Linked DNA regions of Homo sapiens: regions 1, 3 and 4 are each linked to region 2. The links come from fine-mapping of genetic effects on gene expression. A gene starts in region 2. Each other region holds a variant in brackets. All regions are shown on one strand. Distances are between the middles of the regions.

Region 1 (8,146 bases), 46 kb after region 2:
TTTTTTCCAATTCTTAGACATTTACTAGCACACCACTGAGACCCATTATTTACCAAGTATGAGTGGTTTTGGTCCCTTGAAACCAAAAAACTTACTGACAAGAATCAGAGTTCTAGTTACTTATCACTTGGCCAAGTTACTTATTCTCTGCAAAGCCCATTTCCTCATCTGCAAAAAAGAAAGGATGATACCACTCTATTTACTCATCTACATTATTTTATTGTGAAAAACTCAGAATATAATAATTTTATGAGAATATTTTAAAGCTATAAGGCACCCTATAAACAAATGATGAAACAGGGATTGATGGCTGTATTTCTGAAGCATTATATTTCTCATGGGGTATATTAGCCTTGCCTCTTTAGAGAAACAGAACTAATAGGAGATATATATATATATATATATATATATATATATATATATATATATGTATTTATTGTGAAAAATTGGCTCATGTGTTTATGGAATCTGAGATGTCCTATAACCTGCCATCTGCAAGCTGGAGGCCCAGGAAAGCTGGTGGTGTAGTTCCAGTCTAAGCCTTGGAGTCTGAGAACCAGGGACCCAATGGTGTTAGTCTCAGTTTAAATTTGAAAGGCTGGAAAAGAAGGAATGCTGATGTCTAAGGGCAGGAGGAAACAGATAACTCCAGCTCAAGCACAGAGTGAATTCTTTCTTCCTCCACTAATTTGTTCTAGTTGGTCTGTCAAGGGATTGGATGATGCCTGCTGGCATTGGTAAGGGCAATTTTCTTTACTCAGTTGACTGATTCAAATGCTCATCTCTTCCAGAAACACCCTTACAGACACACCCAGAAAAATGTTTTAACAGCTATCTGGACACCCCTTAGAGAAGTCAAGTTGACACATAAAGTTAACCATCACATGGGGTAACTCAATTACCTGGCAGACAACTTGTTCTGAGTTCCTCCCACAAACAAAAAAAAAACAGAACAACTGCCATGAAGGCATTAATTGGAAATGTAAGATTTAACATTGATTTTATAACAGAGCTGGAGGAGTTTTACTTTATATGTCACTTAGCCAACAATTCAATAATACTGTCTTAGAAGTTTGTCTTTTCCCCAAAGCCTGTTAGATTGGGCTCTTCTTTATGGAAATTTGCCTCTCTCAGCTCCTAAGCTCTTCCCCTCCCTTCATATTATTCAAATTAGCTTTTTACCAATAAAACTTGGAGGCCAACAGGAAGCTTCTTTGGACTTTACTACTGACATCTCTCTAACAAATCTGTGTGTTTTCTTGTGATGGGATTCTCCTAACAGCTACTGAAAAACATGTTCTCTAGTTACTATATGTTCCCTTGAGAAAATATTGGCTATCCTGACAAATCAATTATACTAACTCTCTCCCTTTAGGTCGAATGAATGGAAGAAAAACACAAGGCTTATGTGTGGTTCTCAAGTCTTATTCAACTCAGGGCTCAGCCACTCCTCCTAAGATGGGCAAATATGTAGATACAGGAAATATTTTCACCTCTTTTTGTTGGGCATCTTCCCCACCATGATCCTTCCCAGTCTGGAGAATATGGAATGCATAATAAGTTTTTATTGGTTCATCACAGGTATCCCCTGGGACACAAAGTTGTCTGGGAGAGTAGGTGCAAAGCCTAGGCTGGATCTTCAATTACCCCACACCCAGGACTCTTGTCTCCATGATCCCCTCCTTAATCCTCATTTCTGTTGTCTCTGAGGGTCATGGTCTTCTTATACCAGCTCCTACCTCAATTTCTGGAAGACTAGGGTAGAGTTTGCCTCACAGATATGCTCTACTTTGAGATGCCTATCCTTCCCACAGTAGAAACAAATCCTGATGTTAACTTTCCGCAGAGTCCCCAGTACTCCTTCATTTCTCTTTTTTTTTTTTTCGAGATGGAATCTCACTCTGTTGCCCAGGCTGGAGTGCAGTGGTGCAATCTAGCTCACTGCAAGCTCCGCCTCCCGGGTTCACACCATTCTCCTGCCTTAGCCTCCCAAGTAGCTGGGACTATAGGTGCCCACCACTACGCCCAGCTAATTTTTTGTATTTTTTAGTAGAGACGGGGTTTCACCGTGTTAGCCAGGATGGTCTCGATCTCCTGACGTCGTGATCTGCCCGTCTTCGCCTCCCAAAGTGCTGGGATTATTTTTCTTGGAAAACCAGGTATTTGTGTCTCCCTAAAATTCATAATTTGATATCCTAACCTCTTATTTGATGATATTAGGACATGGAGCCTTTGGGAGGTAATTAGTCATGAATGGGACTAGTGCTTTTAAGAGAAGAGATATGAGAGCTTATTCTCTGCTCTCCAACATGTGAGGACACAGCAGGAAGATGGCCATTTGCAAACCAGGAAGCAAACCCTCACTAGGACCGGATCTGTCAGCACCTCGACCTTGGACTTTTCAGCCTTCAAAACTGTGGGGAATAAATGTTCATTGTTTAAGCTACCCAGTCTATGATAATTTGTTATGGCAACACAAGTGAAGATACCAGGAAACTGGTTCTTAGTGTTTACCTATCCTGTCAGTGAATAGCCAGGACTACACTACTTGAACATTAGTGAGTAAAGCAAACCAGGTCTGAAGCTTTTTCTGTGCATCCTTCTGGGGCTTGCTTTTCCTCTCTTTCAGAAATCTTGTGGGGAATTGGACTGGAGCTAGGAGAATGAATCATAACATGCAACCCTTGTTCCCCAAGTCTGGACTAGTAATTCTCTATGCAAACTACTTTTTTGGTTTTATAATGGAAAAGCAGCCAGAACTCTCCCTTTCTCTTTGTCCTTCTAAATTACCTTCATTAATAGTGAAATTTTGGCAGACTTCTTTCCCACATTGCTTCTGCTGCTTAGGGAATCTGAGCTTCCTCAGAAAAATTTCACTATACTTCTGCAACTACTGTCTTAGTCCATTTTGTGCTGCTATGAAAGAATACCTGAGACTTGGTCATTTATAATAAACAGAAATTGGTTTTGGGTTCTGAAGGCTGGGAAGGCTAAAATCAAGGGGCTAGTATCTGGTGAGGGCCTTCTTGCTATGTCATCCCATGGTGGAAGGGCCAAGAGAAGGTGAGAGAGAGCAAGAGATCAAACTTACAGCTTCAAGCCGTTTAATAATCAGCATTAATCCATTCATACAGGTGGAGCTTTCAAGACCTAAACACCTGCCATTAGGTCCCACCTCCCAGAACTGTTGCGTTAGGGATTGAGTTTCCACTTCAAGCTTTTTGGGGAACACATTAAAACCATAGCAACTCTCCACAGCTATTGGGATTATCTTTCTGACTTTGTCTCATAGCATCTGGGTTTGAATCCATATTGACAGTCTCTCTAGTTCTGGTACATGGGCTGAGGTCTTGTTTCCTTCTTCTAATTGCATAGTCAGAATTGGCATACCAGTCCTGGGAAATTCCTGTATTCCTGGATATCTGTATCCCCAGATACCTGTTTGAAGTAGTAGGAGGCATTTCAGGCCTTGAGATCTTTAACAATTCTGAATGCCAGGCCTTGAAATTCTTATTTTAATCAAAAAACCATTCCTTCAGTCCCTGTCCTAGGTGCCTTGAATATGCTTGTATTTTCAGTAACATATAGCTTTGGCTTAATAGATAATTGCTGTATAGTCCTATTTCAGCTGCTGAAGAACAGAAAATATTAGATTACCAATCTCATTATAGTTTCCATGATCATTATAGTTTCCAAATTGTGGAATTTGGAAGGGTGTTCTAAGAACTGACAGTCTCCTTGAACTCTTCATTGTGAGGAGTTTAGAGTTTATCTGGAGAGGGTACACTTCTGACTCATTTCCATGAAAGCATCAGGTCTCATGGAATAGTCACAGAAGAAAAGAACTCAGAAACAGAAACATTCTGTTCCAGCTTTAGCTTTATAACTAATTAAATGGTGTAACTAAAAACAAGCCACTTAACATTTTGTGTCTCATTTTCCTCATATATCAAAAGAAAAATAATAACAACTAGATTTGTTGTGAGACAGAATTCAATAAGGGGAAAGTGCTTTGAAAAATATGAAACTGTACCAGAGTAAGGTAATTTTATTATTTTATAGCCTAAGTTGCTTTGGTCTTCCAATTTTAGTTGAAATTGTACAATTGAAGATGAAACATCAATTTCATAGAGGGAATATAGCAGAATGAATAGTAGTAGAAAGATCAATTTAATCTAGACTTCATATTTTTATTATGTGAAATCACTTAAAAAGTAACAGCATCTTTACTCATAATTTTAGTGTAAGAAAGAAAATGTATTGCAGCAATTGCAAAGAACAGGGCCATTAATTTTATTAAATTTTTGACATCATTTAAATGTGCTCCAAAAAGGGTTATGTTTGTTTCATGCTACAGAAATGATAAACTCAAATGATAACATCACATAAGCAAAATCTAAAAGGGGGAACCTCTCTTAAAAAATATTAGTACTGTTAAAAGATCTTTATAAATTTGCCTGTGATCTGTTACAAGGTACAAGAACATCAAGTAATAGTTTTTATATTTATAATTCATTATGATTAGATAATTTTTAATTCAGTTTTTAATTTTTTCTAAGTACACATTTCAACTGAATTTTTAACCTCTCCCCCTTCCTGGTTGTTGCCACAAGTTTGGAAGCCTGCAGTCAAGGTGGTGATTCAGCAACTCTTCTGCTTGCTTAAAATGATTTGAATTCCATTCACAATCACCAGGGTGAACAATCACAGTATAAAGAAATCCCCAAACAATCTTGTTTTCAGGCAGCCTTCCCATCTTAATGCCTTGTATCACTGGGATCAGAACACCTCCTCAGAGCAGCGTGGGCACG[T/G]TGTGCTATGCCAGAGTTTTTCTGTCAGGCAGGATATGCAAACAGTGTGTTTTTCCAAGTGAAATATACCGTTGTTTCCAAGTTTGGTGGAAGAATGAAGTGAATAAGAAAATTTAATATGTTTATAGTTCTTTTATGTCTTAAAAAATGAAGAAATTAGGCTTTATTAGTAACAAAACACCTTTTGACACTGGTGTCCTCACGTAATAACCAGTGCAGCATTTCATATATTTCGGACCTGAAAACACACATACAACAAAGGGAGAGTGCTCATATATTTTTATATTAATAGATAGGGCCATGCTGCCGGCATATTTGGAGTTCACTTGTTCAGAGCACTAGGAAACTTACTTGATGAATGGTGAGAGTACATAGAAACCTACACTTCTAATTTCTCCCCTTTTCCCTTTCCTGTCATCCAGGTTCTCAAAATTCTGAGCAATTCAGCTTTGTATATGACATTCAGCAAAACAAAAGGCCTGTAGTTAACTTACTCTACCCTCTTGAGGAGATATTTCAGGGACCATCTCATTCTTTTTTCTTTTTTTTTGAGAAGCAGTCTCGCTCTGTCGCCCAGGCTGGAGTGTGCAGTGGCGCAATCTGGGCTCACTGCAAGCTCCGTCTCCCAGGTTCATGCCATTCTCCTGCCTCAGCCTCCCGAGTAGCTGGGACTATAGGCGCCAGCCACCACACCCGACTAATATGCCATTTTCATAAAGGGTAATATATGCCTTACTTTTAGACAGATAAGAGGAGAGCACAGAACCCTTCCTGTATTTTGTTTATGCTTAATTACCTCTAACTCCAAATAATCCTTAGGCCAAAGAGGCATATTTTGGAGTGGCATATCTTGATCCTTTTCACTATCAATATCTACAGTGGATCAGCACATTTAACTTCCAGGTAGACACTCTGGTCAAATGATCCACCAACATTTCCCCAAGCCCTCTCCCTACTCTTCTTCCATATAGGGTGGTGAAAGCTAAATACTCTTTTCCCAGGATCCCTTAAAGCTGGAGCAGCCATATTTTTAATAGTAGATAGTCAGATATGTGCAGGGCAGGAGAGGACCCCTCCTACCAGAAATGTCTGGTGCCCATCAGGTGATGGTCAGGTGGTTGTTACACTGTCTCTCTAAAATAGTATTAATAATTGGTTGCAGCCAGTGCCAGGGAAAGGCAGTCTCCCAATAGATAGAAACACCTGAATCTGGTGATCAGCAGCTTCCTGATAAGATCTCAGGAGCTGAGCAAATGGGCTCAAGCATGTGCACCAAGAGGCAAAATGGCAGAGTTTAACTGGTAGGTGACCTTTCTCTGGGAACACTGAACGGGAAAAATGCCTCAAGTGAGCATGTGCACAACTTCAGTAAACACACTGCGCATTGGGCCCCTCTCAAGTGCTGGCAGACCACTGTGCATGTGGACAGCCCACCCCAAGGGAAGAATCAAGGGAGAAGAGATGCAACCCCCTAAAAGCATGCCAGTGTATAAGACTCTCCTTGAACAAGACAACAATAGTTTGCTGTTAGTTACACCCTACATTCCTTTCTCATCATTTCCCATGGTCAAATTAGCTTTTTAAAATATTGTACAGTAACCATTCAGGCGTCTTTTCTTACCTCTGTGAAATGGAATTATGTATTTATTTTCTCTTACTGGAATTTCCCTTTAGGAATTCTTTCAGAAAGAACTTGTAGATAGTAACTTTTTTGAGCCTTGTATGTCTGAAAAAAAAATGTCTTTATTTTGCTCTCACACTAAATCCAGTGAGTATAGAATTCTAGATTTGAAATAACTTTCAGAACTCTGAAGTCATTGCTCTATTCTCTAGCTTTTATTGTTAGCAATGACAAGTCTGGCTGGAGTGCCATATTCTGCAACTGCAGGAGGGACCGTCTACTTTGGTGTCTTGTTGGATTGGCCTCTCGGCAGCACAGTGTGAATTCTGCATGATGGGGATTGTAAAATTGTGGGGACCATGAGTCTGACACTAACTTGATTTTCATTCCTTCATAGATACATGTTTGTTTTCTTTCTGAAAATCATTGAATGCTTTCTTTTATACTTAGGGCTTTGACATATTTTTAGAATGTGTCCGTATGTGTTTTGTTTGTTTGTTTTTGTTTTTTTGGTAGACAGAGTCTTGCTCTGTTGCCCAGGCTGGAGTGCAGTGGCGAGATATTGGCTCACTGCAACCTCCACCTCCCGGGTTCAAGCAGTTCTCATGCCTCAACCACCCAAGTAGCTGGGATTGCAGGCATGCACCACCATGCCCAGCTAATTTTTGTATTTTTAGTAGAGACGGGGTCTCAGCATGTTGGCCAGGCTGGTCTCGAACACCTGACCTCAAGTCCACCCACCTCGGCCTCCCAAAGTGTTGGGATTACAGGCATGAGCCACTGCACCTGGCCATGTGGGGTTTTTTTTAACATCAGTACTCAGACACATGGTGGACTTTTTACCTGTGGAAAGTTACCTTTTCCTCCACCCTATCTCCTCCGTTTCCTAACCTTTTTTCTCCTTGCTTTTCTCTTTTTCTTCCTTCTCCCCTCTCCTTTTAAATGTAATTTTCTCCCATTTATTTCCTCTTCCTTCTCTTTCTGGAATGCTGTGGGAACATCTGAATGTATTCTCCATTCTTAACGTTTCTATTGTACTTTCTGCTGCTTCATTCTCCTGAACTTCATGAGAATCATATAGATCTCAAATCACAAATTTGAAAATGCAACTTAGCCAAAAAGAAAAATTGCATAATTTCACTACCCAGAGACAACCAATATTAATATATTAATATGTATGTTTTAGAGTATTCTGTTGATATTTGTTAAAACAAAAACAGAGTAATTGAAAACCTATTTATGTGTAATGAACATTTAGTAAGTAGCAAGTGCAGGGATGGTTGAAAGAATGATAGGTCAATTGGCCCCCTCAGTAAGTCAATCTTTATTTGTTTCCATCCTCCTTTGCTAGACTGCCTCTCTAATGAATGTTTTATTTAAGGGATCATATTTTTCATTTCTATGATCTCTACTCATTCTTTGCATAGTCACTTAGTCTGGTTTTCTCTATGAACTGTACCTTTGAATGTGAGTTTTTCGTTGAATCTTGCACCTCTAGTTCATGGTTTTTTTCCTTAAGTGTTTTATAATTCTGTTTTTTCCTCTATGCTAATATTTGAAAATTCTTATTTTCCTTTTTGGTGACTGTAGGTTCCATTTACAGAAGCTTGCCTCTGGTGATTTTAGGGGAGGGCAGTACCTGAAGCCAGGCTAGGCACATGGGGATGGTTTGGCATCAGAGCTTTGAGTGTGCATTTCCCCCAGAGATCCTCAG
Region 2 (8,140 bases):
GGAGACTCCGTCTCAGAAAAAAGAAAATCTATTCATATTTCAATTTAAAAGCCCATGAAGCTTCCTTCCACTGGCCCTACCCAAGTACTCTTCTCAGCACTATGTCGACCTGCACGACAATTTACCCTGAACTTGTATTTATTTTATCCCTTATAATTAAGCATACACTCCTTAAAGGCAGAAGTAGAAAATGCATCACCTTATCACCCCTTACACAGTGTCTCAGTGATTTCTCGTTATTCTAATGAATAACCAGTGCCAGGGAGAAATCATTCCATTTGGGGATCACTGCTCTGTGAGAATGCCTCTGAACATTCAAAACTCATGAAGAAAGGCAAAAGCTGAACCCGGAGTCAGAGAACCTATCCTTTATTTCACAAATATTCATATAGTATTTAGTACATAACAGACACAGCTCAAGGCATCTTATGAATATCCACTCATTTTGTGCAGATGAAGAAAAGGAAGCATAAAAAGATAAAATAACCTAAATAATGGAGCCAGGATTTGAACCCAGGGAATCTAACTCCAGATTCCACACATTTAACATCTACACTATGCTGCCTCAAAGTATGAGAGAATACAAAATTAAGCTTGATCATCTCCTAAACAAGAACTCAGAAAAAAAAAAATACCTATCATAAAGGTTAAAAGATTACTTTCTAACTTTTCATAAAAAGTTGATTAAAAAGGCCCACGTTACAATTGTCATAGATGTCTAATCCCACTCTCACCCTCAAAAATATGCCAAGAGGTACCTATTAATTCACAAAACAGTGTTATATGACACCTGGGGCTTCTACACTGCAGCTCCTATTACCATTTCCTGCTTCCTTTAGGAACACATTATTACTGTGCTTTCTGCCAGCCTCTCAAATAATATGGTCTTCCTGTCTCATTTTTCCAAATCCTTAAATAGCTTCTTTCTGGTTGTGAGGCTTGGTCCTAATATAAATGTCACATCTGGCCTCTTGAACACTTTCATCGGCTTCACCTTGAAGCCAGATTCATGTTAAAGGTCAAGAAAGGATGCCCGGTTATGTACCAATCCACCCTCACCAGCAAGTAATGCTTGCTGCAAAACAGATCCATGTGCAACACAAGGCAGATGTCAGCTGCAAGCTGAATGTGAGGGTAATCGGGGTAATCACTAGCCCACTGGGTAGAACTCTGAAACTCTGTAAAAGGACATACTGACACAATTTCAAATAATATGACACTGCTTTGAATGGAGGGTAGCAAATGGAAGAAGCAGACCATTCTGAGTTGCTCCTTGCCGGCAATGTCAGGAGGCTACCAGGGCAAAGGCAGAGGTAGGAACAATGCTTTTCCTCCTTGAGTAAGGTGCAGCTGGCCATGCTTTTTTCACTATAGATAGTGCCAAAGTTGCAGAGACACCTACAGAGGAAAGCAAAATCATTTCTAAACATTAAAGCCCATGTAAAGACCAGGCATGGTGGCTCACGCCTGTAATCCCAGCACTTTGGGAGGCTGAAGTGGGCGGATCACTTGAGGTCAGGAGTTGGAGACCAGCCTGGCCAACATGATGAAACCCCGTCTCTAGTAAAAATACAAAAATTAGCCGGGCATGGTGGCATGCACCTGTAGTTCCAGCTACTCAGGAGGCTGAGGCAAGAGAATTGCTTGAACCCGGGGGAAGGAGGTTGCAGTGAGCTGAAATCATGCCACTGCACTCCAGCTTGGGTGACAGAGTGAAACTTTGCCTAGGGAAAAAAAAAAAAAAAAGGCACCCCATGTGATATAAAATTGTATACCAAAAAGGATTTTTAAACTTGAGACATTAAGTTTATCAAGACTTTATCGACAGTTTAGCAACTATTGCCTGTGGGCCAAACCAAGCCAGCAGTCTGTTTCTGTACAGCCCTTAAGGAAAGAATGGTTTTTACATTTTTAAGAGATGTAAAAATAAATAAGAACAAAAACTATTTGCGGGCAGAAAGGCCTAAAATATTAATTACCTGGCCCTTTACCGAAAAAATTTGCAGACCCCTACATGAAAACATGCAGTCTAAGAGTTAAGATTCAGTTCATCTATAGAGGTTCGGATTAAAAAAAAAAAAATCAATAGCATTCAATAGCATTCTGTAGTCAAATGGGTGAGCCATGCTAAAAGTCTGGGCCTGGTTACTGATGTCTGTTTACACTCCGTTGCCTCTTACTGTCTACTCACTTCAGTTAGAAACTGGAAAAATATTTGGTAGGGGATAAAAAGTGAAACCGGCTTTGTTATTTTTCAGGACAACATATATTCATATATATTATCTATTTTGTCTCTCCCAAATCATGTAGCAAGCAAACACCACATTCTTTTAGATTAAGACACACATTATTTATCATTTATTCTATCACAACCACCAAACTCAATACTTTACATACATGTAAAATTTCATTTTGTTTCTTCCATAAAAGCTCCCTAAGAGATGGAATTTATTGTCTGCTTTGTTCACTAACAAATCCCCAATACCCAGAATAGGGTCTGGCACTTTATGGGTGCTCAATAAATTTATGATTATTAATGAATCCTCACAAGAAAATAAGCTAATCATTAGTATTACTCATATCCGGAAAATGAGAGATGAATAACTTGGCCTACTCAATAGTGTCAAAGCTAGAACCTGAACTCAGGCATTCTGACCACAGTCTAAGTGAAGCCCGATGCTTCCACATAGGTATGTGCCAAGGGAATGTCTAACTTTCGTTGGACTATCAAGGTGTGAACTATAATGCTTCTGTTATTGCAACTAGCAGTGCCAGTTTTAAATTTCCTATTCTCAGATGACCCATGTGCTACAGGAAAACAAACACACAACTCAAATGTCTTCATGTACTCACTTATCTGAGTGTCACTTTTCTAAGAAGTGCAATGTCATTTTGTCACAGATATTAAAAGTTTTCGTCAAAGAAAATATAAGTGCAAAACTCTGACAGTTAAGTCCTTTTCATTTTTAAAGAAAAAGTTTGGCCGGGCACCGTGGCTCACGCCTGTAATCCCAGCACTTTGGGAGGCAGAGGCGGGCGGATCACGAGGTCAGGAGACGGAGACCATCCTGGCTAACACGGTGAAACCCCATCTGTACTAAAAATACAAAAAATTAGCCGGGCATGATGGCGGGCGCCTGCAGTCCCAGCTACTTGGGAGGCTGAAGCAGGAGAATGGCGTGAACCCGGGAGGCGGAGCTTGCAGTGAGACAAGATCGTGCCACTGCACTCCAGCCTGGGCGACAGAGCGAGACTCCGTCTCAAAAAAGGAAAGAAAAGAAAAAGTTGTGTTACTTATACTTTATGCAACTAGGTAACTTAAGTTCTGCAAGTTAGAAATCAAAGGGGAAAAAAGTCCAAAAAGGATATAAACTTTTGACAGCTACAAATAACAAAAAAACTGCCAGTGATCTTCATACAGAAATACTTAGCTGTACACACAGCAAGTGCTCAATAAAAATGCTTTTCAGAAGAAATGAAAATGAGACAAACCTTTCTTGGGTTTTACAAACCTTCTTGGTTTGTATACTAGAAAGAGCTACACGAAAAAAAGCAAGAAGTAACACTCATGAAAATGTCTTTGGACGGAATGAAAACCCTGAGAGGACTCCCATAATGTGACAGCATGAAGGAAAACAATAAACAGCATCACTAAGAGCGGGGACACCAGACATACAGTCTTTTGAGCAAACTAAGAAAATGAGAAATTCCGTGCCATCTTCAATCTACAACTATGGTAGATATCCGATGCTCCATCCCATCTCACTCGAAAAAGCTGGCACGGAGAAAATGTCAAAAAGGCCAGTTTAACTTAGAGTGGCAGCTGCTTCTAATTTAGAGGGTCTCCGGGGCGGCCCGCCAGCCCAATTCGCCACAGCTCCCGGAAAGCAGCGGGGTAATCCAGGGCCGGGTAAAAAATGCAGAAGCCTCAGCCCCACCCCAGCCCGATTCAAACTCTGGAGGCGCGACCGGGATGAACATTTTTTTAGCCACACCTCCAGACGGTTCTTCAGCCCGCTGAAGTTCAAAAACTACCGTTTCAGTTGGATTCAGGGCAAGGGGAGGCCGGTAAGTCGCCCAAAAATAAAGTGAATGAGAAGCAGAAGTTGTTAATACTATATCCCCCGGCAGGTGCTAACCGCACGCCGACCCGACTGCAGCGCGGGAACGGAAGGAGGAAACGGAAGATTTGAAAAGATTCTGCCGCCCCCAGAAACTGTGCGACCCGTGCCCTCGCAGCCACCCCCAAGAAGCTCCGTCTTTACCAACGCGAGCAGCGCAGCAGCTTCTCCAGGCGGTCGAGCGCGGCGCGACTGTGGGCCCAGGCACCGCGACCATCCGGTTCCATGGCGGGCGCGGAACGAGGCTCGTTCCCGGAGCGGATCCTCGGCTGCCGGTTCCTCGGCTGCCGATTATCCGGCATCGTCCCGCCTTCGGATGAAAGGCTCCTCGCAGAGCGGGAAGCAAGGAAGCCTCGGGAAACCACAGGGAAGCTGCAGGCCAGCGACTCGAAACCGGCCAAGCTCTTCCCGCGTCTGGGACGGCGGGCCGCCAGAGGGGCGGGGCGCGCGGGGAGGGGCGGGGCACGGCGGCCGCAATGCTCCCAAAATAGGGACTCGCAGGGCACAGGGGCGGGGCCGCGAGAGCCAGCCGCTGGCCGAGTGGGCGGGACCTAGGGGTGGGGCTGGAGGCTGAAACTTGCCAAAGTCCCGGCGTGTGGGACTTAGGGGAGGGGCCGCGAGAGCCGTGGGACCGAGGGGGCGGGGCCGGACGGCTGAAACTTGCCAAAGTCCCGGCGCGCGGGTCCTAGGGGCGGAGCCGCGAGAACACGCCGGGGACAGAGGGGGCGGGGCCTAGGAGCCTCGGGGCGGGACAGGACGGTCGAAACCGAAGTCCTGGCGCGCGGGGCCCAGGGGCGGGGCCTAGGGGCCTCGGGGCAGGACAGGACGGCTGAAACCGAGGTCCCGGCGCGCGGGGCCCAGGCGCCGTGCAGTGAGAGCACGCCGCTTGACCGAAGGGGCGGGGCCTGAAGGCTGAGCGCAGTCGCGAGGCTGTAGTTGGCAGGAGAGCGGGCGGGGCCTGAAGCCCCTCTGGGCTGCCTGGACGGATGAAGTCCAGGTGGAAAGCCAGTCGACGTTTCCCGGGAGCTACGACTCCAGGGACCCTCATCCGAGCTTAACCGTTGGAACAATCACAAACCCAGAAACTTTTAGCTGAGTGTTATTTATAAAAAGCGCTGTTTTGACTGCTGTTGGACTTGGAAAAGCTTTGCCCACGATACTGAAGGTACCACTCTTTGTTCCTAAGAAAGCAACCTTTTCTTTCCTCTCACCTCAGCTGTGGCGTATATTGTAACTGAGTAAAAATAAGGAAAGTTTCTAATTCTAACTAGTTAACAAATATCAGCTCAAAGGCATGTCTGAAAAGATCTGGTTTACTTTTAAAATATTGGTATAAAATTTCAAAAAGGGTTTTTTTTGTTAGAGAGTGTGTCCACCTTCCTCCTCCAGATCTTTCACTGATCGCCGTAATTTACAGATAAGACCTACAGAGCAACCCGTCATGCCTTCCTGCCGCGCCCCAAGTTCATTTCCAAGTCCTTGCATTTTTTCCCCCTAACTTGTCTCGAATGCACCCATTTTCTCTCCGTCTCTGCTCCACAACATCCCCAGTTGCCTCGTCCTCGCCTGGTTTCCTGTCGTAGCTTTCTAGCTGATATCCAAGTGTCTATCCAGGTCCCAGCCAGTCCCGAGACTGCGGTGTGGCCGCCTAAAACATTTCCAAACACAAAACTCATCGTGGCACTTCCCTTTCTTAAAACTCCTTAAAGTTTTTCTCTGCTCTTTGACTAGCCTCTTGTCAAAACCTCCTCTGGCCATCATGGTCCCAACCCCACAGTGCGTTCCCTTAGGTCATTAAAAGCCCCTGCACCTTGCTGCCTCATGGCTTTTGCGCAAAGATTCACTTTGGAACCTGGAATTGGCCTCCTCTCCATTCCTCATCCTTCAGAATACAGCTGAAGTATCACTCCTTAAAGGTTTTCCTAGTTCCTAGACTGGATTCTCTCAGGTGCATCATATCACCTGTGTATGTAGATACACACACATACGATTATGTGCGTGTCCCCTTCTAGTTCAAAACCTCCAAAAGGCCAGAGATTGGCTGCATGTGACTCATTTCCCAATATCGCTTCATGTGGCACATGCAGTGCTTGGCTCCAGGTAGGTGCTCAGTGTTTGTTGAATCATTGAACTACCTACCCAAGCCAGACCCAGCTTTAAGTGCTTTCCTATGTTAATACCTGCCTTAAGCCTTATAGGGACCCTATGAAATGGGCATTAGTATCTGTAGTGTCACCCCCAAATTCATATATTAAAAGTTGTAACCCCAACGTGATAGTATTTGGAGGGGACCTTTGGGTGGTAGTTAGATTTAGATGGGGTTATGAGGGCAGAGCCCCCATGATGGGGTTAATGACCTTGTAAGAAGAGAGAGTTCTCTCTCTCTCCACCACATGAGGACACAGCAAGAACGCAAAAGAAGAGGGCCCTCCCCAAAACCCAGTCATACTGGCACGCTAATCTCAGACTTCTAGACTCCAGAAATATGACAAATTTCTGTTGCTTAAGCCATCTAGATTATAGTATTTTGTTATAACAGCTAAGACAGTGCTCTTTAATAAGAGGAGGCAGGTGTGGCTCAGAGATCTTAATTTACTTGCCCAAGGGGCTCAGCACATGCCTGTAGTCCTAGCTACTTGGGAGGCTGAGGCAGGAGAATCACTTCAGCCCCGGGGTTCAAGGCCAGCCTAGGCAACATAGCAAGACCCCCATCTTTAGAGAAAAGTAAGATTTGTAAAAAGAAAAGCATACTTGTCCAGGATGGAGGCACAGATAACAACAGTGGCAGAATATTAACCCAGATCTTTTTGATTATTAATGGCCCCAGTAAATTATATTTTTGGTCTTTTGAGGGGTTTTTTGGGACAAGGTCTCACTCTGTTGCCCAGGATGGAGTACAGTGGTACGATCTCAGCTCACTGCAGCTTTGAACTCCTGGGCTCAAGTGACCCTCCCACCTCAGCCTCCCGAGTAGCTGGGACCTGTGCAGGTGCACCCCACCATGCCTGGATAATTTTTTTTTTAATTATTTGTAGAGACAGGGTCTCTCTATGTTGGCCAGGCTGCTCTAGAACTCCTGACCTCAAGCAATTCTTCTGCCTCAGCCTCCCAAAATGCTGGGATTACAGGTGTGAGCCACTGTGCCTTGTAGCTCCACTAAATAATGAAAACTCAAGGAGTTTAAATGACTTGGCCAAAATCACACACTTGGTTAGTTAGAATAAGCACAACTAAATAAGGCTTTATTAAATGTTTTAACTGAAACTATGATAGCACACAAACGAACCAATTTTTTTTTTTAACTCAGAGGCACCTAAGAAGTTAGTCCTTATTAGTCCTGTTAAGCCAGTGCTTACTCTTTGTTGAGCGTGGGAGAAATCAAGTTCTAGAAAACTTAAAATGGGTCAGGCACGGTGGCTCACACTTGTAATCCCAGCACTTTGGGAGGCCAAGGCAGGTGGATCACTTGAGGTCAGGAGTTCAAGGCCAGCCTGGCTAACATGGTGAAACCCCGTCTCTACTAAAAATATAAAAATTAGCCAGGTGTGGTGGCATGCACCTGTAATCCCAGTTCCTCAGGAGGCTGAGGCAGAAAAATAGCTGGAAGCCAGGAGGTGAAGGTTGCAGTGAGGCAAGATGGTGTCGCTGCCCTCCAGCCTGGGCAACGGAGCGAGACTGTCTCAAAAAAAAAAAAAAAAAAAAAAACACAAAAGGAAAAGAAAGAAAAAGAAAAAGAACGAAAACTTAAAACGTTAAAACCTGGAGAGATACTATGGTGTTAATGGGGTAAATTGAGGATTTCAGGAGATAGATTGTCCTACTTATAATCCCACTTTCACTAAATAATTGTGTGATTTAAACCAAGCCTTAAGCTCTCTGAGCATTAGTTTCCTTGTCTGCAAAATGGGGATAATATTTATCGGGTAGATTTGGAGGACTATTAAATAAGATTAAATGTAAAATCACATACACCATAAGTACTCAGTAAATGGTAACTGATTGAGGATGATTATATATAA
Region 3 (8,000 bases), 36 kb before region 2:
CCAAGGTGGGTGGATCACCTGAGGTCAGGAGTTTGAGACCAGCCTGGTCAACATGGTGAAACCCCGTCTCTACTAAAAATACAAAACTAGTCGGGCATGGTGGTGCCAGCCTGTAATCCCAGCTACTTGGGAGGCTGAGGCAGGAGAATCACTTGAGCCCAGGAGGCAGAGGTTGCAGTGAGCCAAGATCATGTCACTGCACTCCAGCCTGGGCCACAGAGCAAGACTCCGTCTCAAAAAAACAAAACAAAAAAGAAATTGTCTGCGTATAAATTATTCTGAGATATCAAGAAGTACAGTCATGCTTGAATATAGACTACAAAATCTATTAGAAAGCCATATTCAAAATTCATTTCAGGTACCAAATAAAGGACACTGGCCAAAGATCATGTGCTCACAATGAAGTTTTAAAAGCCATAATTTCACTTGTGAAAAAAACAATTTTTGAGCATTTGTAAATGGCTTCTGAGTATTGTTTAAAACAACCAAAACTGTTTAGCCCAGAAGACTACTCAGTGAAACCAAAGTTAAAAAACAGCCAAAAACTGCCATTTTATTGGCAGTTACTCCATCCTAATACATTTAGTTTATATTCACCTTATTTGTTCAACATTTTCTAGGAAGCAACAGTTGCTCTGTTTAAAATGGCAAAAAAAGAGATCAGTACAAACCTATTCAAATCAGCCCACAGAATTAGCATTAAATTTTTTATCCCCCTGCTCCCCGCCCAGTTCAAGACTAAAATCACCACCCATTATCAACTAATTCAACTATACGAAATAGAGCTTCTGTAATGTAGCCTTACAAGTCTTTTCTAACAAGTGGTTTTCAATTTCTCTATTTCTCTATTCCAGTACTCTGGAGAGCTATGCAACAATGTTATAACAGTAGCAACAGTAGCACACTGATGCAATGGAGAAGGCAGATGAGGAATAGTAAGAAATACAATAACTTTACTTTAGAAATCACAACCTCTTTTTAAATCAGATGAGCAAGATCCGGGGAATAAGTGAATTAAAATGAGGCACAAGGCAAGGAAAATACTCTGAAGGCAGACAATATTAATTCGACTTTCATATTAAGACACCGTCAATTATTAAATAGCATTAAAATTGAAGACCCCTTCCAGTTTTGAACTTTCTGTGTCTTGTGTGTCATGATCCAACTAAATCCTACTATAAATGAGTAGACTTTTAAGGTCACTTTAAAGCTGTCTTGAAGTAAGACAAAAAAAATAGCTTCCCTCTGCTGCCAGCCTCCAGCGAAGGTAGACTGTGGCAAAGGAGTTCTGGGGAACTGGTCTCAGGTAGTCTGCCCTCCCACTCTTCTTTTTTATTTTCCTAGAAGTGAGAGATAATAATCCTCCAGCTATCTAATACCAGGGTCTCTTAAATTTGGCCCTTCATGTAATGTGGAAAGATCTGACATCTATCATTTATATTTAATTACATATTACGTTTTAAGTATCCGTTAACTCTTAAAGCCTTTTTAAAAATCTCTAGCTGTAATATAAAGGATACTGTCCCTTTGTAAAACAATGTCAGGCTTTAGGAAGAAGGAGGCATTTATGCAGCGGGATGAAGGTAAAAATTTTCTTGAAATTACATTATTATCACCACTCACTGCAAATATAACTAATCAGTTCTTTTAGGATAACAGGGCAGGGTACAGTACCTAAGTCCATGACGATAAAGCAAAAATATCTAGCAGAGCATACTCTCAAAAAAGACCAAATAAAAAGCTATAGACAGAAGTTACATGCATAACATTGTGTTCAATGAGTTTCGTGAGTGCTTCTTTAGTGAATAAATCTCTCCCCACCCAACCCCTCTCCCAATACTTTTTTCTGAAATTTTTTTCCTCTGTTGGTTTGATAATGTAGAAATCACTAATTCTCCTAAATATAATATTTGATTTTTTTTTCTTTTTAAAAAATTTTGCTGGCCAGACGTGGTGGCTCACACCTGTAATCCCAGCACTTTGGGAGGCTGAGGCAGGCAAATCATGAGGTCAGGAGTTTGAGATCAGCCTAGCCAACATGGTGAAATCCCGTCTCTCCTAAAAACACAAAAATTAGCCAGGCATGGTGGTACACGCCTGTAATCCTAGCTACTCAGGAGGCTGAGACAGGAGAACTGCTTGAACCCAGGAGGCGGAGGTTGCAGTGAGTTGAGATCACACCACTGCACTCCAGCCTGGGCGACAGAGCGAGACTCTACCTCAGAAAAAAAAAAAATGCTTTTTATATCTAATTGTCTCTGTTTCTGTGCTCTGGGCTGTTTCTCAAATCTTCAGTTTTCTAAAAAAGTAAATTCTCATGCAACATACATTTTTATATTCCTAAATTAACAAAATGACCTTAAATGCTCAATGGGTCTAAAAGGATTGTAGGTTTCAAATTAATTACCCCAGTTTCAGGAAAAAAAAAAAAAAAAAAAGCAACATTTTCCCAGATTTCTTAACAGTGCAAATTCTACTTCTAGAGCAAGTTATCATGTATTTAGCAACTGGAGTGCAATGGCATGATCATAGCTCACTGTAACTTCAAGCTCCTGGGCCCAAGCAATTCTCCTGCCTCAGCCTCAGCAGTATGCTACTGCTAGGCATACATCACCATGCCCAGCTAATTTTTTTTATTGTTTTGTAGAGATGGGGGTCTCACTATGTTGCCCAAACTAATGGACTCAAGCAATCTCCTGCCTTAGCTTCCAAAATTATTGGGATTACAGGTGTGAGCCCCTGCAACTTTTGCTTTATATTCATAACGGTTACAAATGAATGCAGGAATATCTGCCAAGATACAAATTTTTTTTTCCAAAACAATCCTGTAACAAGTGAGCAGATAAACTGCCAGAACCACACACATTCCCTATCTTTAACATGAAAGTACTCACACACAAAAACCTTCTCAAAGATTTCCCCATTCTAATTCTACATGGTAATGCAAAAAAAAAATATTAAAGAAGCTTAAAAAATAATATAAACACAATTGTGAAATGGAAGAGTCTCAAGGGAATAGTCAAACAGAAACGGAGTGACAATTTAAAGAATACAAGTAGACTCTCTTTTAAGGTTGTTAGACAGTTGCT[A/G]TTTTTCTTTCATGTCACCTCTTCATATTATCAAAGTGTCTTCTGTTAACATTCTCCCCACCCCTGAACTGTATAGCTGATTAGCAAACGGCTTGCTTTTTATAACCAATCTGCTTTCTCCTCTCTAGTACTTGAAAGTTTTGTCATATTTTCATCTTTCTACTTCATGTAAATGTAATGTCATGCGCATAAATAAAATTATGATAATTAGATAGAGTCTACAGTAACTGGAATAGCTTGAACTGATATGAAGTAGCCAGGAAATAAATTAAGTTTTGATTCTGGCTTCTTTAAATTACTTTCAAGTACTCACTTTTGGGCTCCTCACAACTTGAAAGAATAATTGAACTTTTCTTAAACCACAGCAAACATAATTTATCTAAGGAAAGTATTTGCCAAGGCTTATTAAAAATTTTAAATGAATTTGGTATTTTCAAGTAATACACTGAAGGCTGAAAATAAGAGTGTGTGTGTGTCCCACTGAATCTTTTATTCCTAATCTTTCAATCAAAGGAAAGATCCTTCACACATTTGTACATACTGCAGATCCACACATATTCCAACAATATAAATTAACTTTCCAAAAACACACACATAAAAACAAAACTTTTCCTTATTATAAATGTTAGCTCTTCTAAAATACCATTAATAAACATATTCATAAAAACAATACAGAACGTTACAATTAAGTATAAGACAAATGACTTGCCTAGCATGGTTAAGCCTTTCCATGTAAATGAACCGACCAGGAACCAAAGACTTCCCTTCTTGGCAATTAGATGCCATTAAAACAAACAAACAAAAATGAACCAACTGGAATGAAGCTCTAAAATATGTTAAATATTTCTGTAGCTTCTTAGAATTTACTGAATAAAATACAGGCATATCTCGGAGATACTGTCAGTTCAGTTCCAGGTCACTGCGATAAAGCAAATATTGCAATAAAACAAGTCACACGAATCTTCTGGTTTCCCAGCACATATAAAAGTTATATGTGCACTATACTGTAGTCTACTAAGTGTGCAATAGCATTATGTTTTTTAAAAAAAATGAACAGACCTTAATTGAAAATAACTTTATTGCTAAAAAATGGTGACAATTGTTTTGCTGGTGGATGGTCTTGCCTTGATGCTGCTGGCTGCTGACTGAGCAAGCAGGTAGTTGCTGAAGGTTTGGGTGGTTGTGACAGTTTCTTAAATCAGGACAATGAAGTATGCCACATCCACTGACATTTCATGAAAGATTTATCTGTAGCATGTGACGCTGTTTGGTAGCATTTTATCTGCGTAGAACTTCTCCCAAGATTGGAGCCAATCCTCTCAAACCCTGCTGCTGTTTTATCAACTAAGATGATATAATTTTCTAAATCCTTTGTTGTCATTTCAACAGTGTTCACAACATCTTCACCAGAAGTAGATTCCATCTGCAGAAACCACTTTCTTTCTCATCTATAACAAACAACGCCTCATCCATTGAAGTTTGATCATGAGGCTGCAGCAATTCAGTTACGTCTTCAGGCTCCACTTCTAATTCTAGTTATCTTGCTATTTCTACTACATCTATAGTTACTTTCTCCACTTAAGTTCTGAACCTCTCAAAGTCATCCATGAAAACTGTAATCAACTCTTTTCCAAACTACTGTTAATGTTAACATTTGGACATCCTCCCATGAATCATCAATGATATTAATGGCATCTAGAATGGTGAGTCATTTCCAGAATCATCTGTGGAATACCCATCTACAACAGCTATAGCCTTACAAAATGCTTAAGTAACAAGACTTGAAAGTAAAGTTACTCCTTGATCCATGGGCTACAGAATTGATGTTTTGTTGGGAGACATGAAAACAGCATTAATGTCCTTATCTTCATCAGAACACTTGGGTGACTAGGTGGCACTGTCAATTAGTAATATTTTGAATATCTTTCCTGAACAGTAGGTCTCAACAGCAGGCTTAAAATATTTAGCAAACCATGCTGTCAAGATGTGCTCCCACCCAGGCTTTGTTGTTCTAAATGGTAAATGAGCATTGGCTTCCACTTCAAGTCACCAGCTGCATTAGCCCCTAACAAGAAAGCCTGTCCTTTGAAGCCAGGCATTGACTTCTCCTTTCTAGCTATGAAAGACACAGATGGCATATTCTTCCAACAAAAGGCTGTTTCAACTTCACTGAAATCTGTTGTTTAGTGTGCCACTCTCATAATTATCTTGGCTAGATCTTCTGGATAACCTGCTGCAGTTTCTCCATCAGCACCTGCTGTTTCAACTTGCATTGTTATATTATGGAGACAGCTTTTTTCCTTCAACTTCATGAACCAACCTCTGCTAGCTTCCAACTTTTCTTCTGCAGCTTCCTCACCTCTCTCAGTCTTCACAGAATTGAAGAGATTTAGGATCTTGCTCTGGAGTAGGGTTTTGCTTAAGGAAATGTGGTTGGTTTGATCATCTATCCAGACCATTCCAACTCTCCTCATATCGGCAGTAAGGCGGTTATGCTTTCTTCTCATCTCATTTGTGTATTCAACAGGGTAGCTCTTTTAAATTACTTAAAGAATTTTTTCTTTGCATTCACAAATTGGCTGTTTGGCAAGAGACCTAGCTTTTGGCCTATCTCAACTTTCAACATGCCTTCCTCACTCATCATTTCTAGCTTCTTATATAAAGTAAGAGATGAGTGACTCTTCCTTCCACTTGAAAACTCAGAGGACATTGTAGGGTTGTTAGTTTACCTAAATTCAATATTCTTGTGTCCCAGGAAACAGGGATTCAAAGGGAGAGAGATGGGAGAATTATCAGTAAGCAGAATAGTCAGAAAAGACATTTATCAATTAAGTTTGCCATGTTACATGGCCAGGGTTTGTGGTGCCCCAAAGCAATTACAATAGTTACATCAAAGATCACTGATCACAAATCACCGTAACAGATACAACAATAGTGAAAATATCTGAAATATTGTGAGAATTACCAAAATGTGACACAGAGACACACTGAGCATAGGCTGTTGGAAAAACAGCACTGACAGACTTGCTCAATGCAGGATTGCCAAAAAACACAAAAACAAAACTCTCTGCGAAGCATAAAAAAGTGAAGTGCAATTAAATGAGGTATGCCTGTAATTTAACAGATAATTCTGATAACCTGGTCAATGGCACAATAAGTTACTGGTATTACAAAAGCAGACTTATACATATGTGGTGAGTGACAGAGGAGAAAAATAGATACTGACTCCAGGAGGTGTTTTAGAAATTAAACTCTTGAAAATATCACATATGCCAAGGCTGCTTTTGTTTCCTTTGCTACCTTCTCATGAAGCTACTATGAAGGATATATAATTTCACACACAATATAACATGACTGTCTTCAAGTATAATAAACTACAAAGTTAAACTCTAAATGAGACTCCTCACAAGGGATCTTCTCTCTCTCCAGGGGATCTTCATCACCTTTGTTATGTTCTAAGCATACCATGCCTTGTAAGTTGCATTCAAAACATTATCTATTATGTCTACATCACTAATAAATCATGGCATGCCAGCTTCAAGCCATTCTTCTATTCCACAGTAAGTCATTGCTGTGGCATAAATTATGAGTAGTCATTGCCATTTTAAGAATTTGTGCTAGAGAACTTGGTAGAAGGGTGTGGGGGAAGAAAAGGGGAAGGTCAGGATGGCACAAATTCTCAAGCAAAGCTGACATAATAGAAAATAAAAAATTTTCTCTATATCCTTAGTATTTTGTTTTCTATTGGGTTGGTGCAAAAGTAATTGTGGTAATAAATCAGAAGAATAAACAATGAGTATCTTAGTTTCTACTTACGCACAAAGCTTTCTCATAAACTCTCCCATTCATGACACAGTGTTCTCAATAGCAGTTTAACATAGCTGATGCAGACATTCAAATAGGAACATGAGTTATGAAGATATTCAAATAGGAAGAGGGGTATAAAAAAGACTTACTGATAGGAGAGCAGAGAAATGATAATTTTGATTTCGGTCAGATTACTCTGGCTGTTACATAGAGAACTGACTGCAGGAAATACAAAGGGAAATTAGGAAGCTACTTCAGTGGTGTGGTCAAAAAATTACGACCTCCAAAAATGTCCACACACGAATAATCCCCAGAACCTGTGACTATGTTACCTTACGTGGTGAAAGGGACACTGCAGTGTAATTAAGTGGACACACCTTGAGATGGGGAGATTATTCCGCATTTCTCAAGTAGCCCAATTTAATCGTATGAATTCTTAAAAGCAGAGGGTCTTTCTGGCTATGTCAGAAAGATAAGATGTGAGAAGGACTCAATCTGCTGCTGCTGGATGAGATGAAGAAGAGGACCACGAACTAAAGGAATGTGAGAGTCTCTAGAACCTGGAAACAACCCTCAGCTGAAAACCAGCAAGAAATCTGGATCTCAGTCTTACCACAAGAATTATGAAGTCCCTGCCAACCATCCAAGCAAAAATGAAATGGGTCTTTCCTGGAACCTCCTGAAAACAGCTGACAACATGATTTTAGTGTGATGAGACCCATACTAGACTTCAGGTGTACAGAACTGTAAGAAAATTAATTTGCATTGCTTTGAATCACTAACTTTGTGGAAGTTTGTTTTGGCACCAATAGAAAATTAATGCAAGTGGTAGGGGCAAGAAAAGAGAAGTAGCTGCCAGTAGGGTGGTAGCTATGGAAAGGTTATGGCCAATGATGATGCCCAGAGGTAGTTTGGGGCAAGGTATTATACGATGTTTATTAATAATGTTTCCAAGCTCAGAAATCAATCAGTAAAGCCCTACCTGCAGTGGGGGAAGGTAACTAGTGCAGGAGAACAAACTCCTGCTGGGTTCTCTGCCCTCGGTGCATACACCAAGGATGCTCAGCGCAAACATGTGCTCAAACTATAGAAACTGCAAGTTTA
Region 4 (8,144 bases), 80 kb before region 2:
AAACTATGAACTAAGGCAGAAAAGATAAACATCCTTGTTTTAGGCCTCAAGTGGAGGTGGCGGAAGGGTTTATGATATTATGGTAACTGTAGAAGCTTTGCCAGTGCTGTCCAAGGTGCCCCACTTCTGTGTGGAGGCTTAAGCAATCTTGGTATCCACAGTAAATACACTGAGGGGATGAAAGCTAAACATTTTAGTTAAATGAGCAGGAGTGGCTACATAGATGGGCAAACTTTACCAGTGCAGATGGGATGGTGAGAAGTCAGAAATAAGAAACTAGGGCCTGGCTCTGGTTGTTGTTCAGGCTAAAACCAGTAAAGTGAATACAGGAGGACACCCAGCAGTCTTGTGCATGGGATACAAGAGCCAGGATACTCAGGACTGACACAAGCTGTGCTACCAACAGTCACTTTTTCATGAGCTTGCTCACAGGGGTCCTGGAAGGCGAGTTGTGAATGCCTACAGTGTGCTAAGCACTTTCACACATCTTTATACTCAGGTGAAATGAACTGTATTCCCCCCCTTTATCACTGATGATACAGGTTAGATTGTTAACAAACCCATGTCTAACTTCAAAGCCGATTCAGGATCCTCCCTGGGGCTGGAGTATTAGTCATTAACCCTTTAAGCCTAGTCAAAGAACATGCTTTTCCCACTTCTCTCACATCACCATTCTAATAGAAACTTACAGGTATCAGAAAGTGCACCTTGTGCCTTAGAAAGCTACACAAATAATCAACAATCCCTAATTCATAAGAATGTCTGCAGCTTAATTAGCCAGGCATAAGACTATTAGTTGACTAAAAAAAAAAAAATTACAGCTCTTAAACGAAGACAACTTCTCAATATTTATTTATTCATTCAGTTTGATGTGCGTATCTTTGAAAAGGGTTGACTTATAAAGAAATACATGAAGTTTACAATCTGTAGCTCAATCTATCAAAGAAAATGGTGGCTTTTAGTAATTAAATAAGACAAGCATTAGTTCCTACCATTTTAATGTGTTCAGGGTAGGAAACAGAATAGACAATTGTGACTGTAATGAGGCCCATGAACGTTTAGAATATGATTAATGCATTTTCCACACTGACCCATGGAAACAATAACAGCTAATGTGGCCCCACTCTCACCTGTGAATCGTCTTATTCCCACAGGAAACATCAAACCTCCCCAAATATCATCCTCTAGGCAGAGGTCACTTAACTATTAAATTTACAAGGCAGGTGCAAAAAAAAAAAAAGGTGGGGGGACCGATGAAATAAAGGAAAAATTCTATTTACTAAAATTCAAGTAGCTAAACTATCTTTTAGGTGAAGTCAGTGAAAACCTTCACACATTGCTCATTTACCCTTATTTCAATCATAATGCTAATATACTTCCCATCTGGTTTCTATTTTTCAGCAAGTCAAAAGAAAAAACAATTGAGATAGATATGGTAAAGTATTAGCAGAGACAGAAAAATAGCTACAAAGTGGCAGCTGTCAAGGAAAAAGGGAAACAGTTATAAATTCAAGTAGAACTAGAAAATAGCCATGAGAATGTGGAAAAGCTACCAGCCTCTCACTTTTAGAGACACAAAGCAATCAGTGTGTAATTGTTTCTTAATGACTATTCCAAACTATCAAAGTTATACTGTATTCGGAATAATCTAAGGTAATAAAGTATCTAGTACACTTTAGAAATATTTTTATTCAAAATTAATTAAAAAGCATTATGTTAAAAAAGATAAGCTTTTGTTAGTTAATAGACTTCCTCACCAAGTCATGTTGAGCCTCATTCAACAGCACAGAATAAGCCAATTTTATACAAGACACAGGTATATGGAAACACAAATAACTTTAATGATTTGTGGTAAAAAAGAAGGAAGCTTGAATCTATGATTGAAAAATAAAAAATAATTACATGTATATCTACACAGAAAGTACAATCACAAGTTTCAAGAGCTTAACACAAACTAACTGCTGTCAAATATTTAACAAAAGCAAAGATGAAACTGCTTAACAGTCAGGGAAAAACAACAAAAAGAAGGGAGGGGTGATAAACCAAGAAAATGAATGACAAAAACTAAGAGACCTCATAGGTGTCTTTACAATCAGGAATTCAGATGCAAGGAACAGACACAAACCTGTCTAAAATGTGACCTATGAGGCAACAGAAAGTGACTTAAAGTCTGTTATAAATAAAAAATGACAACCAAAATCCTAGAGAGTCTTAAATTATTTAATCCAGACATTATCTAACGCCTCGGATTTTTGTTTGGTGCTATGGTGTTCATTTTCTATCAGAATGAAATGTGGGACAAATGCATTACTGGTTGTAGAGAGTGTTTCAGAGCTAATTCACCCAGCAAGGTCAGGGTCAAAAGGTTATTATTTTGTTCATATATTTCTTGATATGAAAAAACAACATGTCAAAGAAAGAATTAAAGCAAAATGTGTTTTCAAATGATAAACAGAATCTCAAACTTTCAAGTAAGTGCATCTTAAGATGTTGATGAACTTCAGAGATTCTCACTATTTTAAAACTAGGGATATTCTATTCTGGTAGTTATCAAACTGTCCTCTTTTGTTCATGAGGAACCAAACTGGCAAGTCTCTCAGTGTCTCCTTCCCCAAGTCTTTAATTTTATAAGTATATTCAATGTCTAGGAAGGAATTATTAAAGAATTCTGCTTCTTAAAAAAATGTTTCAAAATAATCTAATGTATCCTTGTCGATTCATGAATGAGAGCACCCAGAGCAGAGTAACCTCCCCACATCTGGCCACTCTCAGGTGGTATCCTGCCCACTCACTAAGGCCTTGCCTATTTGATATTAGTAAGCCCTCCCCATACCTACTTCTATACTTACTGTATGGCCTTTTGTATGATCTGGAAAAAATCTGTTGTAAATCAAGTAATCACCAACTTCTGCCTCCATGCCAACCTAAAAACTTTAAAAAAAACCTTTTCCTTTTACAAAGGAAGAAATTAAGACCTTCAAAATTATTTTACAAATACCAACAAGGTTTACCAGAAGAAGACTGCTTCTTAATTTAAAGTAATGACGTTGGACTGACAATTTGCTAGACTGGTCAGACCTTTTAAAAAATACTAACATTAAAATGTGTTAGAGAAAATGCTCTAAGTATATATACACATGTAGTAGATAAACAGAGTTACAAATTGATAGTTACAAGCAAATGTACAGAATAAAAATATGTACCATGAGCCTAGTGTTGATTTTTACCACACACACAAAAAAACCAATGTTAATGATTAAATCACAATTTCCTGATGATATACAAGATAAAAAACAGGGATGAAAGTGTAGAAACACACAACAAAGTAAATTATTAAGAAAAGAAATGAACACAATATAGGATAAAGACAATTGCAGATAGGAGAATTTAACACCTATGGTGGCACATTTAGACCAAATACTCTTTTTTCAATAAAGCCAAAATAAATTGTTTGATAATATTCTGTTTACTAAAAAAAAAAAAAAAAAAAAGGCAAGTTTTTTCACTGGTGGCAGGTATGGAGAATATTAAAAGACTCAAACAGTAATGATACCACTTGTCTATTTAACCAAGATTCTGGTGTCCTCATTAATCTTTGATACCCAATAATCTGAATAGAAAGACATGATAAATCAAAAACATGCCAATTTTAAAAAGAAAAACCTTTAAAAGCAATCCCAGCTTCTAAATGGTAAACATAACATGAATTCCTAATCTGGCATTAGA[C/CTT]TTTTTTTTTTTTTTTGATTCAAAGACAAATATGAATGACTCTACCTATTTGTAAAAATGTGAACATTAAAAACAGTACAATGACTGGGCTCTCACAAACCGTGCAAATTCAATTTGAAATGTTCATCTGGTATAATATTCAGCTGTCAAGAGGAAGCAACTCAAAGGACATCACACAGTCTATAAACCAGCTCGAAGGAGCCTTCCAGACTTTGCCCTGCCGAACCCTCTCTGGGTGATAATTACACAAATCTTCATAGATGATATACTGTGTGCAGAAGCGCTGATCAGAATCGGGTCTCGCATGGTATGCGACTGTATTGATGGTCTGAGTCACGTCACTGTCTGGCTTGGGCTTTCTACTGAGGATCTGGCCCCCACCTGCAGTGACGAGCTTAATAAGGTTGTCCTTTGGATGGTGTTTGAAGGTTCCCCACAAATAGAAGTAGCATCCATCAAACAGCTTTGGCAACTGAAATAATGAGAAAACATTTGTTAAAGGCAGATCAAAATACTGTATTCAAAAACACTGTATATGAATGAGGAAAATAAAAATACAAGTTGAATATCCCTTACCTGAAACATTTGGAGGAGAAGCATTTCAGATTCATAAATTTTTTGGGTTTTGGAAAATTTGCATATACATGAGGTATCTTAAGGATGAGGCTCAAGCCTAAACACAAAATTCGTTTGTTTCTTGTACACCTTATGCACATAGCCTGAAGTAATTTTATACAATATCTTCAGTAATTTTGTGCATGAAACAAAATTTTGACTGTGTTCTGACCGTGACCTGTCACATGAGGTCAGGTGTGGAATTTTCCACTTGTGGCATCATGTCAAAGCTCAAAAAGTTTTGGATTTTGGAGCATTTTAGATGTTGGATTAGGAATGCTCCATCTGTAACAATTATGAGCAGCTAAGAAGCTACTTAATGAGGTGCTGGGACAAGTTATATTTCAAGCATACTAACTGGATCAAGAAAAATACTTAGGCAAATAGGGGCTTCCTATTTACAATTTTTTCCCTAAGATTCAGTCACCATCTCGGTTCCTTTTCACTCTTCTAAAATTTTAGATATGCTTGGTATAAAGAAAAAAACAAACTATTCATCAAACTTTTTTCATCAGGATGTTTATGCTTATTTGGTGGGACTTAAAGCCTCCACAACTCCTAGCTTATTTGAAATAGGCTTCAGAGACACCAGGCTAAACATTATTAAATTACAAGAGTAACATCTTTTCCGTGGACTTTTATCCAATTCTGCCCATCCACATTCAGGTCCTTACATATTACCAACCTAAGGTCTCCAGGGCAGCCACCATGGGGGTGTGCCCTCCAGGGTTCCAGAAATGTATTCACGGGGCACAAAAGATTTTTGTGCTGAGGCTAGGGATCCAATTAGCTATGAAACATACTTCCGTATGCTCGTTGGAAATAAAAAAAGTTTCATAATTCCCTTCTATGGAAATTTTCTTTGTGACTTCTAATATACTTATATAATATCAACAGGATAATGCGATATTATCCATTAAAGCTACAATATGTGGCCATAGAGACATATGGTAACTAAATCCAAGCAGCAGCTGTAAGTCTTCTTTCAAGCTACTTCCTGTATCTGAGATTTACCTCAGATTCTGAAAGGTTTATGGCAATGTTCAAGATGCCAAAAATCCATTAACAGTATGAAATTATTACCTTCTGGATTTTACTGCTCATCGTGATCATCTTTCAGAATCAAGTGCTTGAAATAAGCACAATTAAAATTTTAATCAGTCACCTGTAGCTGTTGAAAGGGCAGAAGTTCTTCCTGATGGTGATAATAATAGTATGTCATAATAAGAACAATGAAAGTTGTATTAAAAGAAAAATACCAGCTGTTCTCTGTTGAGCCTGCTTCTGCGTGGACCTTCAGGAATTTCATACTTTTCTTCCTGTTCACATACTTTTCTTCGTAGACATGCTTTTACCCCTGACAAAAACACAAGAATTAAAGCAAACTAAGTATCAAGTGAGCACTATATCTCTCTCATTAAAATCAAGCAATTTACCTAAGTGGTTTTTCTTCTTCATGGCAGTTTTTAAGTATTATTCTAAAATGCAAACAGAAATCTTACTTATGCCAAAACAAAATGTAATACAACTGGTTTTCCCATATAAAGAAAATATTTTAAAAAACTCTTTCTTTGGAGGATTAAGCCATAAGTTAGTACTGAACACTAACTGTAATTTTAATCTCCTTTCTGAAAAACCTAAGCCAGGATACTATTTCAAAGACAAAAATAAAAGTCTACATTTCCACTCATAGCAATTACCCAAAATTAAGGTGAATAAAAAGTCCATGACACAATAACCTAAACTGAGCACTTACCATCTATACTGCTCATTTTGACAGTTATATGTCTAATCGTCTGTTAAACTGTAAGTGATTTGACATGAAGGAATGTGCTTTAGTCTACAGCACCAAGCTCAGCTAGCCACACAACAGGGGTTCAACAGCGCTTCCTAAAATAAACAAGCAGAGCTTGGGATAGGTTTGGCATGTGACAGGTACACAACTGAGGTTGCTAGTCTAGAGATGATTTGATTGGGCTTTGCAGGAAAAAAAAAAGCATTCTTTTGATGGCTTGAGTAAGTCTGTTCACAGCTTCAGGTTAAAAAGCAAAAGCAATAGAGACAGCTCAGCCTGGCACTGTTTAGAGTCATTCCACTGCTTGGCACCTGGGTGGGGAATCCCTAAGTAGGGCCACTGGCTGGCAGCCAGTACCAATTGTCTCGCTAGGCTCTAGAAATGAAAGGAACCCTTGGGATTCCCAGGACCAATCATGAAGGACATGGTCAGCTTCAGCTAGAGACAACATCTTGGATAATGCCTGTTTACCACCAAGCGAGGGAACTGATGGCATGTATATATATTTATCATGCTTCTGTTCTGATGGCATATAACTAAACTAAATTTGAGATTTGCAGTTGAAGGACTTGGCTATCCCAATTACTTGTTCTGGAAGCTTCCTTGCCTATGGAAATAAAAAATGAAAACAATGTTTTTCACCGGGCTTCTGTGGATAAAATGCAAGAAGCATTCTAAAAACTAGATACTACAATGAATTATCTTCATCATAAAAACAAACCCTCCATACAATTTCCTATTTGTCTTTGAGGTTGTTTTGCTCAATACTTCATTTTATCACTGAGGGTAGGAACCATATATTATTCACCTATGCGTTCTTCAGAATTTCATACACTTTCCCATAGAACAGGAGTTTAATAGCAGAGGGTATCGGGAAAGTTGGAACAATAACTCAGGTATCCCCTTCACTGTCTAGTGTTGTTAACATAAAGGAACAAAAGTTTTTAAAAATTCACTATGGACACAGCATTGACAGATTGTATCCACATCAATAAAAATAAGTAATTATATAGCACCTGTAAGAGTTCAGAGTTACACATAGTTTTGAATATCAAACTGTTACATCCTGTTATCACTTGATATCTAATGGCTTAAAATGATCAGAAAAAAATCTATGGCTGCATAAACATATACTTTATATTGAGGATTAGACATATATGTTGGATATACTACAGTGTTTTGGAAACCTCTTGAAAAATGCTAGTGATAAAGTTTTGTCCAGCTGATCCCTACTTACTTCAACAGTAAATTGATTCCAACACAGGAGCAGAACCACTACTCGGCATGTAAACTGCATATGCCTGCAAAAGGGCTCCTTTCTTGACTAAAGGGTGGCTAAGAACCAACAGTTAATCTGCTACCCAGAACTGTCCTGCGATTGCATCTAATATAAATTAAGATTCAGTTGTGTATGAGTAAAATGTCTTTTGACCTATGATGATTTTTTTTTCTTTTTTTTTTTTTTCTGAGACAGAGTCTTGCACTGTCACCCAGGTTGGGGCGCAGTGGCGCAATCTCGGCTCACTGCAAGCTCCGCCTCCTGGGTTCACACCTTTCTCCTGCCTCAGCCTCCCAAGTAGCTGGGACTACAGGCGCCCGCCACCATGTCTGGCTAATTTTTTGTACTTTTAGTAGAGACAGGCTTTCATCGCGTTAGCCAGGATGGTCTCGATCTCCTGACCTCGTGATCTGCACACCTCAGCCTCCCAAAGTGCTGGGATTACAGGCGTGAACCACCACACCTTGCTGACCTATAATGATTATCTTGAGAGCAAAAACTTATACTGGAGAAGAAAAAGAAATGCAATGTTTTCCAAGAGTGAGTAATGGTCCACTTTAGACTAACTCAGACTTTATGGCATAATCGGTTTTAAACTTTCTTCTTTATTACCCCACACTGACACAATAACAAAACTTCAACTGTTTCCAGGAGCCACATCTGCAGAATTTGGAGTAAGCGACAGAACTGAAAAAACTGGTACTTTCTGAGGGAAAAAAAATGTGTTTG

Which allele goes with the higher level. Positions count from the first base shown, and alleles are read on the strand shown. Sizes are in standard deviations (SD) of each study's normalised expression. Not every link is listed here.
As copies of G replace A in region 3, the expression in left ventricle of the gene that starts at base 4,537 in region 2 goes up (moderate effect, 0.59 SD a copy in GTEx).
As copies of C replace CTT in region 4, the expression in B cells of the gene that starts at base 4,537 in region 2 goes down (moderate effect, 0.56 SD a copy in CEDAR).

Evidence for each region. PIP is the estimated chance that this variant, and not a neighbour inherited with it, causes the effect.
Region 1: its variant is the best candidate, but not a certain one, in a credible set for the expression of BARD1 in T cells (TOPMed, PIP 0.62).
Region 3: its variant is the best candidate, but not a certain one, in a credible set for the expression of BARD1 in left ventricle (GTEx, PIP 0.53).
Region 4: its variant is the best candidate, but not a certain one, in a credible set for the expression of BARD1 in B cells (CEDAR, PIP 0.86).

The regions. Positions count from the first base shown.
Region 1 is chr2:214,851,633-214,859,778 of GRCh38, forward strand. The region is part of intron 2 of SNHG31 (small nucleolar RNA host gene 31); the gene reads left to right. Among named protein-coding and RNA genes, the nearest start is that of SNORA70I, 8.8 kb to the left of the region's middle. The variant T/G (reference allele first, on the strand shown) is at 4,812.
Region 2 is chr2:214,805,147-214,813,286 of GRCh38, forward strand. It overlaps BARD1 (BRCA1 associated RING domain 1), which reads right to left and starts at 4,537. Exons shown (of 11, transcript NM_000465.4): 1 at 4,266-4,537. The coding sequence starts at 4,423. SNHG31 (small nucleolar RNA host gene 31) reads left to right here and starts at 5,083. Exons shown (of 4, transcript NR_110292.1): 1 at 5,083-5,286. RefSeq lists enhancers at 3,476-3,525, 3,816-3,895 and a silencer at 4,446-5,015.
Region 3 is chr2:214,769,506-214,777,505 of GRCh38, forward strand. All of the region lies in intron 4 of BARD1 (BRCA1 associated RING domain 1), which reads right to left. Among named protein-coding and RNA genes, the nearest start is that of BARD1, 36 kb to the right of the region's middle. The variant A/G (reference allele first, on the strand shown) is at 3,090.
Region 4 is chr2:214,724,811-214,732,954 of GRCh38, forward strand. It overlaps BARD1 (BRCA1 associated RING domain 1), which reads right to left. Exons shown (of 11, transcript NM_000465.4): 10 at 5,601-5,698; 11 at 836-4,198. The coding sequence ends at 3,866. Among named protein-coding and RNA genes, the nearest start is that of BARD1, 81 kb to the right of the region's middle. The variant C/CTT (reference allele first, on the strand shown) is at 3,727.